2 separate regions of the Homo sapiens genome follow, and region 1 is linked to region 2. Evidence: fine-mapped expression QTL. A gene starts in region 2. The other region holds a variant in brackets. All regions are shown on one strand. Distances are between the middles of the regions.

Evidence for each region.
Region 1: its variant is fine-mapped to the expression of RGS3 in whole blood (TOPMed, PIP above 0.99).

Annotation. Positions count from the first base shown.
Region 1 is chr9:113,574,731-113,584,894 of GRCh38, reverse strand. RGS3 (regulator of G protein signaling 3) reads right to left here. Exons shown (of 23, transcript NM_001394167.1): 18 at 468-1,445. Among named protein-coding and RNA genes, the nearest start is that of RGS3, 120 kb to the right of the region's middle. RefSeq lists enhancers at 2,418-2,926, 2,824-2,993, 3,154-3,203, 5,685-5,774. The variant T/C (reference allele first, on the strand shown) is at 5,233.
Region 2 is chr9:113,458,009-113,468,172 of GRCh38, reverse strand. RGS3 (regulator of G protein signaling 3) reads right to left here and starts at 4,446. Exons shown (of 23, transcript NM_001394167.1): 1 at 4,292-4,446. The coding sequence starts at 4,370. RefSeq lists enhancers at 3,634-4,588, 4,589-5,543.

The DNA.
Region 1 (10,164 bases), 120 kb before region 2:
CAAAAATACTATCTACTTCAAAGGGCTGTTGTGAGAGTTAATGAGTTAATGTAAACTGCTTAGGATAATGTGGACACGGAATAAATGTGTGTTGTCATTGTGACTGGCTGATGGATTTCTAGTCTGGCTAGGCTGTAACTCTATTTCTCCAGCTACTATCTCAGATCTTTTAAATCCAAATACACAATGGCCTGGGCTAAGCTACACCTGCTCTGCTTTCTGTGGGGACCAGTGGAGCTATAAGAACACAGCATCTGGAATCCTAAAGTCATGTGTTTAAGTCCATGCTCTGCCTTCTTGGTCCCATTGGGCCTCAGTTTTATCTTCTGTCCAACAGGTGGAAAGTTCGCTGGGAGGCTGCCAGGATAGTGGGGGTGGAACATGGTGACTTCTCATTCCCTGCAGCCCCTGGGCCAGCCCTCCCCACATTGCATGTATCCTTCTCCCTCCCCCTTTAGCTTTCTCACCTTCCTGTGTCCTGTGAAGAAGAGGGAAAGGTGGTGCATGGAGCCACCATTGCGGCCCAGCTCTTTCTTGAGGGTGCTGGGCGAAGGCATGCCCCAGGTGGAGGCGGCGCCCTCACCGTCTGAGCAGTGCAAGGTGGTGTCGGAGGCAAAGCAGGGCCCTCGGGGCTCCTGCAGCAGGCTGCCCTCGCTGTGCGTCCGGCGCCGCAGCGAGTTCTGCACACGCAGTGAGAGGCCACCCTCAGCCCCCTGGCCCGTCTCGATCATGCTGCTGCGCTTGGCCTCACTGCGCTCTCCGTAGTTGTCATCGCTGGTGTCCTCATCCTCGTCCTCCTCCCCTTCCTCCCCCTCCTCCACCTCCTCGGCCTCTTCTGCATCCTCCTCATCTCCCGAGCAGCCCTGCTCTGCCCCTGCCTTCTGGCTGTAGGTGCTATCCAGCCGGACCTCAGGGATCACGAAGGCTGGCCTGGGGGCCGCAGGTGGGTCCCCAGTAGCTGCTAGTAGGTCCCCGGAGCTCATGGTGTCCTCAGTAAGGGCCTTGGCTGGCAGGGAGACCTGGCTAGGAGGCAGATCTTGACAGGGTGGAAGGTCCCGGGTGGGGGATTCCTGGATGGCAGGGAGGTCTTTGGTGAGTAGAGGGTCCTGGTGAGGCAGGGGTTCTTGACCAGCAGGTAGGTCCTGGCAGGGTGAGAGGTCTTGGGCTGGAGGGGGTTCCTGGCATGGTGGCACATCCTTGCTGGGCGGAGCATCTGGGCCTGGAGGGGATCCTTCAGAGGTAGCTGAGTCTTTGCTGGACAGTGGTTCTTGGCTGGGAGCGGGTTCCTGCCCAGAAGGGGAGTCCTTGTTGGGTGGAAGGTCTTGTCCTGGAGGAAGCTCCTGGCCAGGAGAGGGCTCCTTGCTGGGTGGGGAATCCTCGGCACCAGGCCCCTTCCCTTCCTCCAAGGCCATCTCCCTCTTCTCATCTGCCTCCGTCTCAAACATCTGGGAAACAAAAAGAAAACAAGAACAGTTCAGAAGAGGAGGCTCCAAGATGCCAGACACCATGCATGAGCTGACATGAAATCAGGCAGTGGCCTGAACCCCGGGCCCCCAGTCTGAAAGCTGAGGTGCCAGATGGAACCCCCAAAGCCCCTTTGACTTAGCTGGGTAACAATTCTCACCCTGTCTTCTTGCTTGAACTTTCTGCTCCATCAAAAACACAGCTGGTCATTTATAGGAGAAGAGGGAGAGATAACCACTATCTATCTAGCTCCTGCTTTGGCAGGTGCCAGGCCAGCTTGACCCCACTCTCTTATGTGGCCTTCCCGACAACCCTATAAAAGAAGCATCACTGTCCCCATTTTACAGAAAAGGAAACAGGGTCAAAGTTGCCTCTGGGGATAAAGGAGAACCAGGCAGTCTCTGCTTATGGACCAGAACCAAGCCAGGGCAGTCACTGAACCCAGCCCAGGGTGTCTTCTACCTGAACTCAAGTTTAAAAAATCCTAATGAGTCATTCAAACAAGAATGTGCTCTGAACGCTTAAGTATCTTTTTGAAACTATTAAACTGGAATGAAACCGGAACTTTAAAATATTGTCCACACCTGGACTCACCAGATGTCGCAGACACACGGAACCTCCCTGAAGAATCACCCACCCAGGGATTTTTAAACTGCTTGGAGGAAGCTCAGGGATTCCTCAAAAAACACAGCATCTCCTGCCTCACACACAACCCTCGGGATCCTAGGGGGTTTTGCTGAGTTTCGACAGTAGATTTCATGTGCAAAGAGAAAAACATTTCTCTTAATGAAAGTCTGAATAGCAGCTATGTCACCAGAAGATTGGGGCCCCGAGAAAGTCAGGAGTGTCCATGGTGCCACAACCACACAGGGAGGCAGTTCTCAAGTCTGGGGTGGGCCCCTCCCAGTCAAGGACCAGGAATGCCGGAGCTGGAACTATTTATTTAGAGCCCAGGTTCTGTCTTCAAGAAGCCATAGCTGCTGAGAACTAATGAAAGGGAAAGACCTCACCCATACTCGGGAACTGAACAGATGCTTGGGAATGTGTGCACCTGCGGGCACACGCGCACACTGGCAGAAAACTTCAGGGGTAAGTACCCCCAGAACATGGGTTAAGAGCTCTCATTGTAGAAATCATTAATGTCCATTTGATGGATGAGAAAACTGAGCCCAAAGGCCGGTGACTTACCCACTATTGTACAGCTGCCCTGACAGCCAAAAGCCATGCTCGAAGCTGAGAAGTCTTTGAAGCCCTGGGGAGTCTGTAATGGTGAAGCCCCACAGCTGGGAGTCAGTGTTCAGCCATGGCTTGGGGCAGCTGCAGGCTGCTGCACACACGTGTCAGGGGTCACGCTGGCATCTGGGAGCACAGATGTGAGCGGATGTGAAAGCTCGGCACGGGTAAGAGCCACAGCCTGGGAGTGTGAAAGTGAAAGTGGAGCCCTGCAGAGCAGAGAAGGTGGCTGGGCAAGGGAGGGGAGGCCTTGGAGGACTCTAGCGTGATCTGGCCAAGGTCGGGAAGGGCACGCCTTAGGCTATGGCTCACAGGCCAAAGACAGGTGCCTGCTGATGCTGTGGCCTTCTTGCCCTGGAAATCCTGCCTGCAGCTCAGAGGTGACTCCACACAAGGGCCCTCTCAGACCTCATAGCCTCAGACTCTGAAACAACAGCGATCCGAAATCCCCACTGCATAGACAGAAAGGCTGAGGCCCAGAGAGGAGCAAGGGGCAACCTAGAATCACACAGAGGTGTCAGGTAGAGCCAGTCACCAACCTTTAGGCCTCAAGGTGTCCACGTATGAAATGGGATAACCAGCATGCCTGAGTAACAGATCAGGAGCGTATGCTGGAAAAGCTGGAAAGCTCGAAAGCTCCTACAGAAGATGGTGGTGTTGGAGTTAGTGCTTTAAAAAGCATTGATCTAGAGGGAAATTCTGAAGTTAAGGACCTCAACCAGAGGCACGTGTTTCCCACATACACCAAATTTTGCCAAACACCAGAGTCAGTGTTGGCAATTGTAATGTCAGGGCCTCCAGTCCAGAATTCTCATCTGGAAACTAAGGGCTGTGCTTCAGTCCTATCAGGCTGTTCCCAGGTGGACAGAAAGACCCTCCATTGGGTAGACAGGAAGGCTGAGGGCCCAGTCTAGACAGTGACTTAGTGACTTGCCCAAAGCCACCCTGCACAAATTAGGGGCTAGGCTGGGGCCAGAGTCCAGGCCTTCTGGCCCTGTTCTTCTCAAGCCCACTTCTGATCTCTGTCCCCATGAACAAACCAGTCCCCAGCCCATCGCCCCACCCACCAGGGAGCATTCTCCATCAGGAGAAACAAACTGCCCTGCAGCCAGCTCCCTGGGGCCCCTCAGTCCTATCACCCTACCACATGGCCAGACCTCCCCCCGACCCACCCCCTGGCCCAGCCACCTGCCTCTGATAGTCCTTGGGGAAAGACGGAAGGAAGCAGCAACCGGGTGCCCTCAGGGCCTGGCACGGAGTGGCACAGAGTGGCACTGAGTGGGGAGCGGGCCGCATTTCCCCTTTCCTGGGTGGTGAGGGTGGGGCCCAGGCCTGTCCCAGTGGTGACTGTCAGTCAGAGCCCGCCCACCCCTTGGGGAAAGTGCAGCAACAAACCCAAAACCAGAAATGCAAGTCAGCCTGCCTCTGCCAACCCTGTTCTAAATCGAGGCCAAACCAAACAAAGCCAGGAGGGGAAGTGCCACTCAGGCAGGGGTACTGCCCCCAGAGGGCACCTACCCAGAGAGATCAGCCGAGAAACTAACCAAGATGGAAGGGTTCTCAGAGGGCCCAGTGGTTATGTGCTCAGATACCCGAGCCAGGCTGATTTTGATCCCAATGGGGCCACTTTTTAGCTGTGCAACTCTGGCCAAGCCTCTCAACACCTCAGAGCCTCCGTTTCCTCATCTGGAATTGAGCCCAGTGATATCATACTGGACTCACAGGACTATTTGAGTCTCCTCACAGTGCCTGGCCCTGGAAAAGCTTTTGATACAATGGGAGCTATCAGTGGTCTTATTTTAGAGATAAGAAACCTGGGGTCCCAGAGGGTAAAGGAATTACCTAAGAATGAGAGGCTGATGCAGGATTAGAACTCATATCTCCTGCCCAGGGTCTCTCCCTGTTTCCTTGGAGCCTTACACACAAGTGTTTGGGGACCTCAGAGGGCTGTAGAAGGAGGAGGAACAGCCTGGAGTGCTGCCTGAGGCCCCGCACCTGGGTGCATCCCACATCAGCAGATGCTGGCGAACAGGGCCCAGAGCTCATGGTTCTTTCTGTGCTCCCAGGCAGGTCTGTATGAACAGGGACTGCGTGCAGGTTTGGTAAGGCCCCTGTTCTTGGGAGAGCTGGGGTGGGAAGTGGTTTGACGGGAGCTCCGGAGCAATTATAGGAAACCCGAGAAACCCAGGGGTGGGAGGGTGGCAAGTGTAGGAGAAAATTAGGGCAGGAGGGGAGGCAAAGATGAGGGGGAGGTTGCAGAACACATGGTGGGCATGGGATTTGCCCTGTGAGCAACGAAATGCCACAGGCAGAGCTGTGCTGTGTCAAAGCTGCTCTGGGGAATGTGGGCAGGATGTGTGGATGGCAGGGAGGACTGGGGCACGCATACATTCATGCATTCTCCAAGCACTGAGGTAGGTACTAGGAGGACGGCAGGGAACAAGTCAGACACAATCTCTGCCCTCAGTTAAGTAGAAAAAACAGAGGTTAGACAACTAGTTTGAAGGAGCATGGGGACTGCTCTGATAGAGGAAG[T/C]ACAGGCAGCTGGGGACCCAGTGAGACAGCTGTTGCAACAGCTGAAGTAACAAGAATCCAGCCAGGGCGCCCCAGGAAGACCAGCTTGCTCACCCAGGGCCTTGGGTCTAGAGTGCTGGAAGCCACTGCCCCACCCTCCCAAGGTGGGGGTCTGTGTCTTTCCCATCCATCACTTCTTTGGCTTGGCTGGACCAGGTTAATTCTGCCCATGTCTCATCTGCTGTAAGCACACAGGAAATGAACCAGGCCCTCTAAATGGAGTCACTGTTTAGGACCTAATCAAATCCTCTCCCAAATCCAATCCAGAGCTCAGAATAGGCTAAGGAGGGATGGCAGCTATGACACCCAGAGTTCACACTCATACCAGCTTTGGCTCCTGGGCCCCAGATGCCCACCGGATGTTGGGTTGAGGGTAGTGGTGGGCTGCTGAAAGTGACTTGTCCAACATCACACAGCTACTCACTGAGCAGCCAGGTTTGCTGACCCAGGGACAACCTGCAGCTCTCACTCCGATGATTCATCACAGCCACCACGGATGCCGGGCTCTGCATCTGCCCTCGAAAACCACTTCCTGCACTGGGGGGGTGTAAACTGGGGTTTGCCTCTGTCTCAGGGTGGCCCTTAACAGCCAGGATTTTACTGACAGAGCACTGGACATGCAGCCAGAAGACCTGGACTGGAATCTTCACTCCATCATTTGCTAGCTGTGTGATCCCAAGCTACCCCACTCCAAGCTTGGTTTTCTCTGCCATGAAAGTGGGTGAGGATGCCTGCTGCTTCCTGTGCCAGAGACCTAAGGGGACCAAGTGAGAAAGGGCAGGAAGGCACTCTGTGAACTGTAAAGTCCTTTGAGAAAGGGAGAGGCTGTTAGAATTCCTGCCCTGCCTTGGACCCCCAGGCTTTCAAGATGGGCTGTTCCTTCAAGCTTGGCATGCTCTGGATCCCTAGCCTCAGGTCCCTGACTCAATGCTAGCTTCCAGGAACCTTGATGGCTCAGCTAACACTTAGCTCTCCTGGCTCAGCGTCAGCCCAGCTCCTCCAGGTCTGGCCTCTTGACCACCCAGAGGCTGACACCCCCAGTCCTTCCTCCGCCACCAGCTCAGAGACCCTCCAGGCCATACTCCTCTCCCCTCTACCTCCACTGTCTCCAACACAGCAGGTTTGGCAAAATTCAGGAGGATGGAGGCGGTACTTACATTAGGGGGAGCTCCAGATACTAACTTCACACTTACTTGCTGGGTGACCTTTGGCTTAACCTTTCTGTGCCTCAGTTTCCTTAGCCATAACATAGGATTTCTAGAATCTCCTCACAATGTTGTTAGAGGAATAAATGAGCTAATGAGTATCCAGAGCTCAGCACCATGAGGGCACCCATGAGCACTCAATAAACGATAGCCATGGTCACTCCAGCACAGCGTGGCCTTAACATCTCCCTCCCTGAATTTCACCCCTTCTCCACCCTCTCATGGGCCTGTCTGCCTGTCCATCAGGACCTGCTGCAGGGCCCCTCTCATCACAGTCCTGTCCACTCCCTTGGGAACCCACCCACTCCCCAGGCCACAATCGCTATCTGCACCATCTGGCCACTGATGACTCGCAGTCCACTCTGCCAGCCCTGACCGCTTTCCTGAGTTGAGATGCCACAGGCAAGTATTCAACAAATCCTCATGGAATAGTTCTGCATCCAGACACTGTTCTAGGCTCTGTGCATAAAGGAAGGAATAAGAAAGACATGATCCTTGTCCTTGTGGAGCCTACGAACTAGAGAGGAAGGAGGGATATTGACCAAGTCATCACTGCCATAAACACAGGATAAACAGAAACCAAGATCTGCAGTGTGAAGGAAAACCCTCGGGTGCTGTGAGAGAGTCCAGGGGAGTGTTGGGAAGGCCGCCCTGTGGAATGGCTGGAGACCGAAATCTGCTCAAGGGGCAGGGCGGGGCTCACTAGGGGAGGAAGCAGCATAGGCCAAAGCCCCGGGCCAGGAAGAGCCTTAGCATGCTGCTGACACAGAGGACAGCTGTGTGGCTGCATCCCAGGGACATGGATGGAGACCTCCTTCTGCATATCCCATCAGTACCCCCAACTCTACAAGCCCTACACTGAATGTGTGATCTCCCCGCAAGTCCATCATTCCTCCTCTAATGGTCCCTGTATCAATGAAGCCACCACCAGTTGCCCAAACCAGGGAATTGGCCATCATTTTCTCCTTTTCCTTCGTGACCACCCCCATGGTCAATCCTCAAATCCTGATCATCACTTATACAACTTCAAGGATCTTTTTACTAGGGAGGTTGGCAATAAGTAGGACAAAGTATATTGGAACTCTCTGTACTTTGCACTAATTTCTAAAGCTAATTTCTAAAAAATAAAAGTTGAGGCCAGGCACGGTGGCTCAAGCCTGTAATCCCAGCACTTTGGGAGGTCAAGACGGGTGGATCACCTCAGGTCAGGAGTTCGAGACCAGCCTGGCCAATATGGTAAAACCCTGTCTCTACTAAAAATACGAGAATTAGCCAGGCAACATGGCGCGCACCTGTAATCCCAGCTACTTGGGAGTCTGAGGCAGGAGAATTGCTTGAATCCAGGAAGCGGAGGTTGCAGTGAGCCGAGATTGCACCACTGCACTCCAGCCTGGGCAATAGAGTGAGACTCTGTCTCAAAAGTAAAAAATCAAAAAATTAAAAAGTTGATTAATCTTTTTTAAAAAGAATGTTTCTACTCTCTCCATGTCCACTGCTGCCACTTCCCTCTAGACCACTGTCATCCCCCACCAGGATGATGTGGGGCTCACAGTGGCGGTGCAGACCCCACTGGCCATTCTCTGTGCTATGTCAGGGGAGCTGCCTCCATGCAAACCTCAACTTGTCACTCCTCTGCTTAAAACGTTGCTGTGGCTGGCTCCCCAATACCTCTCAGATAAAGTCCAAATTCTGTAGCCCTGGAAGACCCTGGGCTCTGTCTCCCTGTAGCCTCACGTCTGACCACTCCCCACCTGAAGTGTTTGAATGAATAAATGAATGAAAGAACAATCGCTGGGTGCGGTGGCTCACGCCTGTAATCCCAGCACTTTGGGAGGCCAAGAAGGGCAGATCACAAGGTCAGGAGATCGAGACCATACTGGCCAACATGGTGAAACCCCGTCTCTACCAAAAATACAAAAATTAGCTGGACGTGGTGGTGGGCGCCTGTAATCCTAGCTACTCGGGAGGCTGAGGCAGGAGAATGGCTTGAACCCCAGAGGCGGAGGTTGCAGTGAGCCAAGATCACGTCACTGCACTCCAGCCTGGTGACAGAGCAAGACTCTGTCTCAAAAAAAAAAAAAGAAAGAACAATCCAGTGAACTTCACAGGACCATCTAGACTCTTAGCCTCAAAGTGCAGCCCAAGAGCCAGCAGCAGCATCACCCAGGAGCTTATATAAAATACACACTCATTTTTTTGTTTTTGTTTTTGTTTTTTTTGAGATGGAGTCTCGCTCTGTCGCCCAGGCTGGAGTGCAGTGGCGTGATCTCAGCTCATTGCAAGCTCCGCCTCCCGGGTTCACGCCATTCTCCTGCCTCAGCCCCCCAAGTAGCTGGGACTACAGGCACCTGCCACCACGCCCGGCTAATTTTTTGTATTTTTAGTAGAGACGGGGTTTCACCATGTTAGCCAGGATGGTCTCGATCTCCTGACCTCATAAAATACACATTCGTAAACCTCAATTCACACCCACTGGATCGGAACCTGCACTTTAATAGGATCCCAGGAGATTCATTTGCACATTAAAGTTTGAAAAACACCGACCTAGACTATTGGTTCTTAACGGAGAAGTACACTTTAGAATCACCTGAGGAGTATCTTAAAAATGCCTGTCTGGACCCAATCTAAGACCTACTGCATCACAGTCCCTAGGAGTAAGGCCCAGGCCTTTTTACTTCTTTCTGACTGACGAGACAATTCTGGAGAGTGGCGTCAGGTAACAGGCAAGGTGACTGTCTGTTACGTGAGGCCCAGAGAAGGGAAGTGATAAGGCCAAGGTCATACAACAGAATCAGCACTAAAATCCAGCCCAGAACCTCGCCCAGGACCAGTTCCAACACATAGAACCCTCTCTATAGTGGGGAGCCTGTGCAGAAGAGGCATGACCTTGGAGCAGGACGGGGGAGGTGGCAAGTTCCCTGGAGGCAGCTGCCCATTCACGTTCCCTAAACAGAGGCCCCACTGCAGGAGGAGAGAGGGGCAAAGGAAGAATTCGACCACAGACTGAAGCTCCTCTGTCAGAGGCTCAGGAGGGCGGCACACCACAGCAGGGAGTGCACCCACTCTACAGAAAGCAATACTGAGGCACAGAAGGTTAGCTCACCCCCGCGCAGGGACTCTCAGGACAAAGCCAACACTCACAGAAAGGGAATCCCTGAGGAAAGAGGAGACACGAGGGCCCCCTCAGAAAACCTTCCTACTCTTGGCTATCGCCTGACCAAGCCAGAAGGACATGCCGCTTGCAGCCTGCTGGAGACCCACCACCACCTGCCTGGATGCCCAGCTTCTCCCAGGGCGGGGAGGCGGCTCCCGGGGTCTGGGTTTCAGCACGGTGCTGCCCTGTCACCCCCTCACCAGGTCCCTTCTCCTCTCGCCTCCATTTCTGACACCACTGCTTCAACATGGGTGGACTCGTAGTCTTTGTCCCCACCCACCACCCCAAACACCCCTTCTACTCCTCCAGCTCTCTTCTCTGAAAAGCAGGGAGTTGAGAGTTGAGAGCAGGGGGGTTCCTAGCTTCTTCCTGAGCTAGTGGTGACTGATGCCTTGTGAGAAGGGGAACTCCAGGCCCCCTGGGGCTCTGCTGAGGAACCAGTCTGCCTGTGGGATCCATCCTCACTCCCCTTCCCACCCGGCACCCTGCTTTTCTGCCTGCTCCGTGTGTGTGTACTGGGACCTCTCATTTCCC
Region 2 (10,164 bases):
ACTCTTAGAAGAAAACATACAGGTAAATCTCTTGGTAACTGACAGAACCTTAGATTTGGCAGTGAATTCTGAGATATAACACAAAGTACAAGTAACAAAAGATAAAGTAAATTGAACTTCATCAAAATTAAAAATGTTTGGGGTTCTGGCTGGACACAGTGGTTCATGCCTATAATCCCAGCACTTTGGGAGGCCAAGGCAGGAGATCGCTTGAGTCCCTGAGTTCAAGACTAGCTTGGGCAACATAGGGAAACCTCATCTCTACAAAAAGTTTTTTTTACATAAGAAAAATTAGCCAGGCATGGTGGTGCACATCTGTAGTACCAGCTACTCAGGAGGCTGAAGTGGGAGGATCGCTTAAGCACAGGAGGTTGAGGCTGCATGGTCAAAGAGGAGCCATGATCATGCCACTGAACTCCAGCCTGGGCAACAAAACAAGACCCCATCCCCAAAAAAAGTTTGGGATTCAATGAACACTATCAAGAAAGTGAAAAAAACCCACAGATAGAGAGAAAATATTTGCAAATCATATATCGGTTAAGGAGCTTGCATCTAGAATATATAAAGAAATCTTACAACTCAATAATAACAAGACAAAAAGCCCAATTTTAAAATGAACAAAAGATCTGAATACATTCTTCTCCAAAGAAGATATATAAATAATGAGCACATGAAAAAATGTTCAACATCACGGGTCATCAGGAAAATGCAAATCGAAACTATAGTGAATATCAATTCACACCCACTAGGATAGCTAGAATTAAAAAGTCAGATAATAACAAGTGTTGGTAAGGAATGTGGAAAAACCAAAACCCATATACACAGCTGATGGGAACATAAAATGATACACCTACTTTGGAAAAGAGTTTGGTAGTTCCCTAAATAGTTAAACACAGAGTTACCATAGGACTCAGCAAATCTACTCCTAGGTATATACTGTGTGTATATGAAGAGAAATGAAAACATTTGTCCACACAAAAACTTGTTCACAAATGTTCATGGCAGTATTATTCATAATAGTCAAAAGGGAGAAACAGCCAAAATATTCATCACCAGATGAATAAATTTTTAAAATGTGGTATAGCCATACAATGAATACTACTCAGCCATAAAAATGAATGGAGTATGATATCTGCTACAACATGGATTAAACTTGAAAACATTATGCTAAGTGAAAGAAGTCAGTCATAAAAAAAAAAATACGATTCCATTTATATGAAATGTCCAGAACAGGCAAATCTACAGAGGGAGAGAATAGATTAGCAATTGCTTTGGGCTCGGGACAAGGGAGGACGGTACAAGCTAAAGAGCATAATGTCTCTTTTTGAGGGAATGAAAATGTTCTGAAATTGTGATAATAGTTACACATCTCTGTGAATATACTAAAAACCATTGAATTGTATGGTTTAAATGAGTGAATTGTATATATCTGAATTATATTTCAATAAAGCTGTTACAAGAAAAATCAGCAAATATCCTAATCAAAATAAAATATACAATCCTGGAGAAAAATATTATGTATACCTACAATGACTTCAAATTACATCATTTTTCACAATAAAGAAAAAAAAATCCCTCTAGAGTAGTTGGGTCCTAGCCTCAGCTTGCCTACTCCCTTCCCCTGAAGTAAGGCCACCTCCTCAGAACGCAGTGTCCTTCAATTAATGTCACTTGAACATACTCCTTTTGGGGGACAAGGGGTTGTGTTCATGTGTACACACAAATACATATATCATGCAGTACTCTCCCCGAAGGGAATTCTCATCAAAACAGTTTTGTCTCTTTATATTTCCATAGATGATTATGCTCCCTTTACATGTCTGTGCTCAGGAAACTACCAGCTAAGCAACATCTTCATCTGGTTCTACCAAGGCAAAGCTCACAGTAGAAGGCCAGGGGCTACCTACTTTGCTAAGGAAAGGCCAGTGAACTGAGAAAAACTTAGCCAAAACCTTCACAGTAAAAGTGGTCCCAATTGCTACCAAAACTGACTCTGAATCCATAGCTTCCAAACCTGGATGACAGTCTGAACGCTCTATGGCTTCTTAAGTGTTCATATTCTCAGGCTCCACCCCAGACCTATTAAACTAGAGTCTCCAGAAGAAGATTCTAGGAATCTGTGTATTTTTAACAGGCTCCCCACATGCTTCTGATATTTGGCTGGGTTTGGAAACCACTGATAGGAATCTTTGCTCATAAGCAGATCAGTGAAGATCACAGTGGATAAAGAAAATCAGCAGCCTGAAAGAGGGGCACCACGACAAATGGCACCCAGGGAAACAGAGCCAGTGCAGGAAACAGGAGAGAATTTCTCAAATGCTCTCATAAGCATCCTTAGAGAGATGTGAGAGGAGCCTGCACGAATAAGAGCAGGTGGCTTCCCACCCCACCCAGGCTCCTGTCTGCCTCCTGCACACTCAGGTCACAGTCACTTGTTCAAGCAGCAGCCTTCCCTGATACCCATCAGACTCAGCCCTGAGGCCATGGCTGGGCAGGAAGATCCACTCCCTGCTGGGCCTGAACCCTCCTCAGCTTCCCAGATCTGGCAGGCAGATTAATCTAATAGAAGAACATGGACCAATGCAAGGAAATATTCACATCAGGCCACTAAGGAAAACATATGGGTTACAAAATTGTCCATACAAACTTGATCTCAATTGTGTTGAAATTTGACCCCTAAATACACACAGGCACACACACACACACACACACACACACACACACACACACACAGAAATAGGTGTGGAAATAAGCCTGGGAGGATATAAATCAGAAAGTTAACAGTGGTCTCCCTGGGAAGTCAGATTACAAGTGATTTTCACTTTCTTCTTTTCACTAAGTTTTCAGCAGTAAACACATGTAACCATGATAATAAGGAGGAAAAAAGCAAACATATTTTTACTTTTTAATCAGGACACAGCTAAGGTAAGAGGGCCTCACAGCTCCCTGACACCCTTTCCTGATCACTCCTACCCCAGCCAATACAGATCATCCTGGAAACCACCCTTGTCTCACAGAGCCCTGCATCCCAATGGGGTTAGCAGGAATTGCCTCCTACGCTGGGGCATTAAGTGAGATAATGCAGGTAAAACACTTGGCATAAGGAATGGCAATGGTAAGTTCTCAACAAATGATGGCTAGTTAATTGCCCTTTATCGTCCACCAACTAGACCAGTGAATTCCTGCTGCCAGACGTCAGGCAATTTCAGAGGCCAAGCCACTGCTCTTCCATCATTCCCTCTACCCCTAAGGAAAAAAAGCAGGTTGTGGAAAACCAAATATGTTGAGCAGGAGTAAGCCTGAAAACAGAAGAGCCAGGAACCCCAGGGAGGGACCAAACTCCTTGGGCACTCTGTCTTTGAAAGCTGGGCAATGTCCAGTAATGTTTCAGTAACAGCCCCAACCTTTAGAAGGAAATTGTATGCAAGTTCAAACAAAAATGCGCTGGACAGGTCATCTCTGGAAAGCTTGAGCTCAGCTACGAACTCTGCCACTGGCTCATGGAAGATCTCTTGGTTTCAAGTCTTCACAGAGGAAAAATAACCCCTCTCCACAGAGAGTTGCAGGACCAGTGAGGAAATGAAGGGTTACCCTCAAGGGTAGGGTTGTTACCTTTACTATGGCTACCAGGAAGGCCAGGTTTGCCCAGACCTTTGGGCAGCTGCCGCCCAGCTGTTATTTGGGGGAACTCAGTCTGCTACTTAGGGGCTTGGGAGTGAAGCCTACTGTTCACTTCTTTCCACCTCAAACCCTGAGGCAGCCCTGGGACCCTCCTAAGGGATTGTTCTTTCTTGGAGGAGAGAATTCTCCCATCTCCACTGTGGCTCAGATACCCAACAAAGTCAAATTGCAGCCTCCCCACAAGGCAGCAGGGCCAAAGGGCCCAGCACCTGTCCGCTCCCTGAGCCAAAGGAAAGTGGGTGAATGAGATCTCCAGTTGCTATAACAAGACCTTGATTTAACCTGAGCTGCTTGCTAATGAGAAACTCCGTGGTGACAACCCAGGTCTCTGAAAGATTAACCAGAGCGTGATTATTCCAGCCAAGTGAGGCAGAACCAACCGCAGTTGGCACTCATGGCCGGGCAGCAGGTGGTGTCCAGCAGCTTGCTTGGACTGAGCCTGTGCCCTGAGCCCCTCCTGGGCAGTCACAGGAGAAAGGGGCCAGAGAAGGTGCCCCTAGATAGAAAGAGCACCTGCTCCCAGCCTCCCCTGTCACCACGAGGGGCTGCGTTTCTGGGCGCTGGGAGCAGGGTGAAGCAGCCCCTGCCGCCAGCCCCAGCGGGCACTTACCAAAGGTGGTGAGGTAGAAGGACAAGTCCGGGTGGGCACGCCGGCTCCCGAGGGAGACGCGGTGCAGGGAGCGCTCCATGGCGTCCCACTGCGACCCGGACAGGAGCGTCTGCAACCCGAGGCGGCTGTGTTGCTCCCCAGTAACCGGAGTCTCCAGGGCGGGAGGAGCGCGAGCGGGAGGTAGGGCTGCCCCAAGCGTTGGAACGGCCAGGGCGCGCCCGGCCCTGATTGGCCCGCGCGGGTTTGAATGGGGAGAGTTCCACCTGCCGGAGCAGAGCTGGGCCGGGGTGGGGGAGGCGGCGCCGCCGACCCGCGCTGAGCAGCGACGGCAGCCACCCAAGGAGCCAGCAGGACGGTGCGGCCACCCCGGGTATCCCGGCCCCAGCACCGCGCTCCCGGTTGGAAATGCCAGTCCCACGAGAAGGCCCAGTCCGGGGTGCCCACTCTGGGCAGGCTTGGCCTCCTCGTCCAGCTCTCCTAGACCAGCAATTAGTCGGGTTTATAACCTGCTTTGAAGCTCAGGCCTATAATCATTAGATCCAAGCAAAGGCAAAGGAGCACCCGATGGCCCAGGGCAGTGAGGTTTGGAAAAGTGTTCTCTGCGCTTGGACAGGTCGCCCCCCACCATGCTGCATCCTCTTCCCAAACCCTGCATCCTGGATCACTCTCTTGAGCCTCCTCTTGAACAAGTGCTGCCTGACACAGGTCCGGATGGGAGCAGCTTGCTCCAACCAACCTGATGGCCCCCCGTCCCACAGCCTGATGCCATCGGACAGCAGGACAGGCCCACAGCCTCTGAGAAAGAGGAACGCACAGGAAACGGAGTGGGGTGGGTGAATCCCCCAGCCTGGTGCGGGGAGGCAGAGCTGGAAGGTCAAACCCTGCTTTGCTGCTTTGTCAGCAAACATTTACAGGACACCTCCTCGTAGCAGTTTCACACCAAGACATCTGCTCTGCAAATCTCTGTTGCCACTGTGGGAAGGAAAGCTGTTAGTCTCGTGTAAATCTAAAAATGGGAAGTGTTGGTATTTGTCCCTGTTCCCCAGACTTCATCGCCAAGTGGATATTTGTGGTTCAGTGATCCACTCAAAAACAAGATGGGGAGATGCAAGACAGAAAGTGGAGAGAAGAGTTATGTGTTGAGTACCAGATGCCAGAGGCTGAGCTGAGCTGGGCAATTTACACACATCATCTCAGTTAATCTTCACGGTAAGTCTAATAAGTATTAGCCCCAATTTACCAGGAAGAAATCTGAACCTCAGGCAGAGAAGACAGGTGACATGCCCAAGGTTTGCAGAGCTAGGAATAGGCAGAGCTGAAATTTGAACCCAGGCCTGTCTGCCCCAAACGCCATTGTCCTATTCTTCCTTGGCCTCCACATCTGCCCCATGGCCAACAGCAGGTGGAAGGAGCAAACGCCACAGGGTCAGGTGGCCACCAGCGAGGAGCAGAAACTGCAGAAGGAGCCCTGAATCAGCAAACTGGTGATAAATCACATAAATGCCGTAGGATTGTTTGAATCCTGGCACTTCGTGAAGTCCTGCCCTGCTCTTTACTGCACCCCCCCACCCCACCCCACTCTCCCCCTCCAACCCCGGTTACACACACACATGGTGAACACTGCCTTTAACAAGAGCAGGTCCACTCTCCTAGCCTCAAGCCAGTGACAGATGGACTTACCTGCACCCTGGACTTTGGCATGCGTGATCCTCTTCCTGGCTGGAGAAGTTTGAGTCCACTCATCTCTTCTGGGCAGAGCGATATCAGGGCTTAGCCACTCCATCCAGCCAGGGAATATGGGCAAGCTCAGGCTCAAGCCACAGGATGTAGAGAGGACACTGAGCACAGAGACGTGGCAGACCTGCAGGAGCAAGATGGGAGCATGAGTTAGCCATGGCCTGAAGATGCTCCATGCAAGGTGTGTTCACTCCCAGTAGGAACTAGAAAGCATGGTGTTCAGGAAACAGCAAAGGAAGGCCCACAGGGAAAAGGGAAGGTGATGTGCCTGAGATGATAGTCACCTCTTCACAACTTCGCCAGGGACCACTGTAGAGCCTCCTCCCAAAGGGGAGACTATCTTGGGCTCCAGAGGCTGTGAGCAACCTGCAGGTACAACACTCAGGACGGTGAGATCCAGAAAGAAAATTGGGCAAAGGTGTGCTGTCTGAATGTGACCTAGGAGAGAAAAGACCGAGGCCCACACTGGGCACTTACACCCGGTAATGGGAACAAAGATTCTACTGCTTTGTAGGTCCCCTCCTGACTCCTGCCCCACTCTGCAGCTAACATATTCAGTTGGAAGATTGCAAGGCCAGCCTGATCCTGAGCTGGCCCCTCTGATGGTATCACCTTCACCACCACCAGTAAGGCTCCTTTACTCAGTAGCGTGCTGGAAGCTTCCTTTTCCTAAAAGGACAGGTCGGTCACCCTTTCCTCAAGAGATGGAGGAGAGAGGTGAGTGGGAGCTTGGGCAGGGCACTTCAGGAGAGACTGGCCCTATTAACCCACACTGCTGTCCAAAAGCAACATCCAGAAAGGCTCATGATCATGGCCCTGCTTTCCCCAAGAAGGCAGGAGAGTTGGACCAAGCCTGGCTTTCTCACATGTCCTGAGCATTCTAGCACCCCCTGGGGTTCTTCCACCTCACACATGTGCACACACACTCCACACATACATTATCATACCACACACGATAACAATCATACACTCTGCACACATACATACACATACCTCAACATATCCCATGTACACACACAGTCACATCATATGCACATATACACATACATAAACACACTACATACACACCTCACATACATATACAAACACACCCCACACATTATATATGCATCCTATGCATATATATAAGCACACATCACACTGACACATGCACACAAAACACATACACTACATATATACCATATGCATATATACAGATTGATTTGAAGCACTTAATAAAGTATCGAGCAATGATTTTAGGCATTTTTTTAAAGACTGACTATATCTGGAATAATAAGGAATACTTGAGTTTGAAAAGAAGGGACTAAATGGATTTATTTGGGTGCATTTTCACAATAACTCTCAAAGAATCTTAGTGACTTTAAGATATCATCTAGCCCAATAATAACCAAGAAAACTTAGAAAAATAATAACAAAGGGAACTTGTACTACCAGATGTTAAATGGTGTTAAATAATATAAAACTAAAAAGAAAAGACAGATCGATGGAATTAGAGTAGAAAGTTCAAGGGGATAATTTATTTAGAAAATAACAAAGATTTAAAGTGTTTTAACTAAAAATTCATTTCAAAAAGTTAGAAGAGGAATAAGCTAATTCAGAAGAAAAAAAAATTTTTTTTTTTTTGGAGACGGAGTCTCACTCTGTCACTCAGGCTGGAGTGCAGTGGCGCAATCTCGGCTCACTGAAAGCTCCACCTCCTGGGTTCACGCCATTCTCCTGCCTCAGCACCCCCCGAGTAGCTGGGACTACAGGCACCCGCCAACACGCCCGGCTAATTTTTTGTATTTTTAGTAGAGACGGGGTTTTACCTGTTAGCCAGGATGGTCTCGATCTCCTGACCTTGCGATCTGCCCATCTCAACCTCCCAAAGTGCTGGGATTACAGGCATGAGCCACTGCGCCTGGCCAGGAGAAAATTTTAAAAGGAAATAAGGTTAAAGGTGAAATTTATCCTCAAAAAAATAAACTTCAACAATAAGACCAAAGCCTTGTCTCTGAAAAGTTCAGTAAAATAGACCTCTGGCAAAATGTATACAGAAAACCAGAAATAAGCAAGTTTAGGGAAGAGAAAGCCAAGATATACAGGTGATTTTTTTTTTTTTTTTTGAGAGAGTTTCTCTCTTGTTGCCCAGGCTGGAGTGCAGTGGTGCGATCTCTGCTCACTGCAACCTCCGCCTCCCAAGGTTCAAGCAATTCTCCTGCCTCAGCCTTCCGAGTAGCTGAGATTACAGGTGTACACTACCATGCCCGGCTAATTTTTTGTATTTTTAGTAGAAAGGTGGTTTCACCATGTTAGCCAGGCTGGTCTCAAACTCCTGACCTCAGGTGATCTGCCCACCTCAGCCTCCCAAAGTGCTGGGACTACAGGTGTGAGCCACTGAGCCCGGCCTCTTTTTTTTTATTTTTTTTGAAACAGAATCTCGCTCTGTCACCCAGGCTGCAGTGCAATGGCACAATCTCAGCTCACTCCCAGGTTCAAGCGATTCTCATACCTCAGCCTCCCAAGTAGCTGAGACTACAGGCACGCGCCACCACACCTAGCTAATTTTTGTATTTTTAGTAGAGACAGGTTTTCACCATGTTGGCCAGGATGGTTTCGAACTCCTGACCTCAAGTGAACCGTACACCTTGGCCTCCCACAGCGCTGGGATTATAGGCGTGAACCACCGTGCTGGCTAATATTTTAAATTATAAGAGAAAACCACTGCAACCTTATTGTATAAATTTGAAAATCTGAAAGGAACTGGATGATTTTCTAGAAAGTATTAATTAGTAAAATTGATAAAAAGTTTGAAATTTTTAATAGATCACTAACTATAGATAAAATAGAAAAGGAAACCAAAACTCTATTCGACAAAATTATAGAAAATCCAGATAGTTTTAAGAGGCTAATTCTATAAGATCTTCAAGAAACAGATGATGCTAATGTAGTTTTAACTATTTCAGAACATAGGAAAAAACAAAGATGTGTCAGCGCTAGGTAGAAAGCTAGACAAAGACAAAAACCAAGTAAGGTTAGAAACAGAAAACTATAGACCAAAGGTAAAAGATAAAAGTAAGAATAGAAGTTAATTAAATAGAAAATATACAATAGAGGCTGGATGCAGTGGCTCATGCCTGTCATCCCAACACTTTGGGAGACCAAGATGGATGGATCACCTGAGGTCAGGAGTTCAAGACCAGCCTGATCAATATGGTGAAACCCATGTTTGCTAAAAATACAAAAGATAGTCAGGTGTGGTGGCATGCGCCTGTAGTCCTAGCTACTCGGGAGACTGAGGCATGAGAATCACTTGAACCCGGGAGGCAGAGGTTGCAGTGGGCCAAGATAATGCCACTGTGCTCCAGCCTGGACAACAGAGCAAGACTCTGTCTCAAAAAAAGAAAAAAGAAAGAAAATATACAATAGAGCAGATCTATTAAAATGTGGCGAAACTAGGCCAACATTCTCCCAGTTTTGTCACTTTTTTTTAAAGAAAAGCCAGCAATCTTAAATAATCCATGTAATATTTCCCAATTTGTTAATATTAATAACTCATTCAAAATGTTTTAAAATGTTATGAAGGCTAAATAGAATACATCTATACCCCACAGCTAGTTTGAAATTTCTACATAGCCCAATCTGACTTATGAATATAAATGTAAAAATACTAATAAAATACAAGCAAATCAAATCCAACAGTATATTCATGATCAAGTTGGTATTTATCCTAGAGATGCAAAAATGGTTCAAATTTAGTGAACATATTAGTGCAGGGGTTGGCAAACTATGGCCTACCAACCAAATCTGGCTGGCTGCCTGTTTTTGTACAACAGGTGAGCTAAGGATGCATTTTACATTTTCAAATGGTTGGGTGAAAATTTTTAAAGTTAAAGACTTTTCTATGGCCAGAAAAATGTAAAATGTTTTTAACTAAAAAAATGAATTTGGCCAGGCACAGTGGCTCACGCCTGTAATCCCAGGACTTTGGGAGGCCAAGGCAGGCGGATCGCTTGAGGTCAGGAGTTTGAGACCAGCCTGAGCAACATGGTGAAACCCCGTCTCTACTGACTCGATCATGCATACACTGTGGGATTTGATTTGCTAATATTTTATTAGTATTTTTACATCTATAGGCATCAGTCAAATTGGTCTAT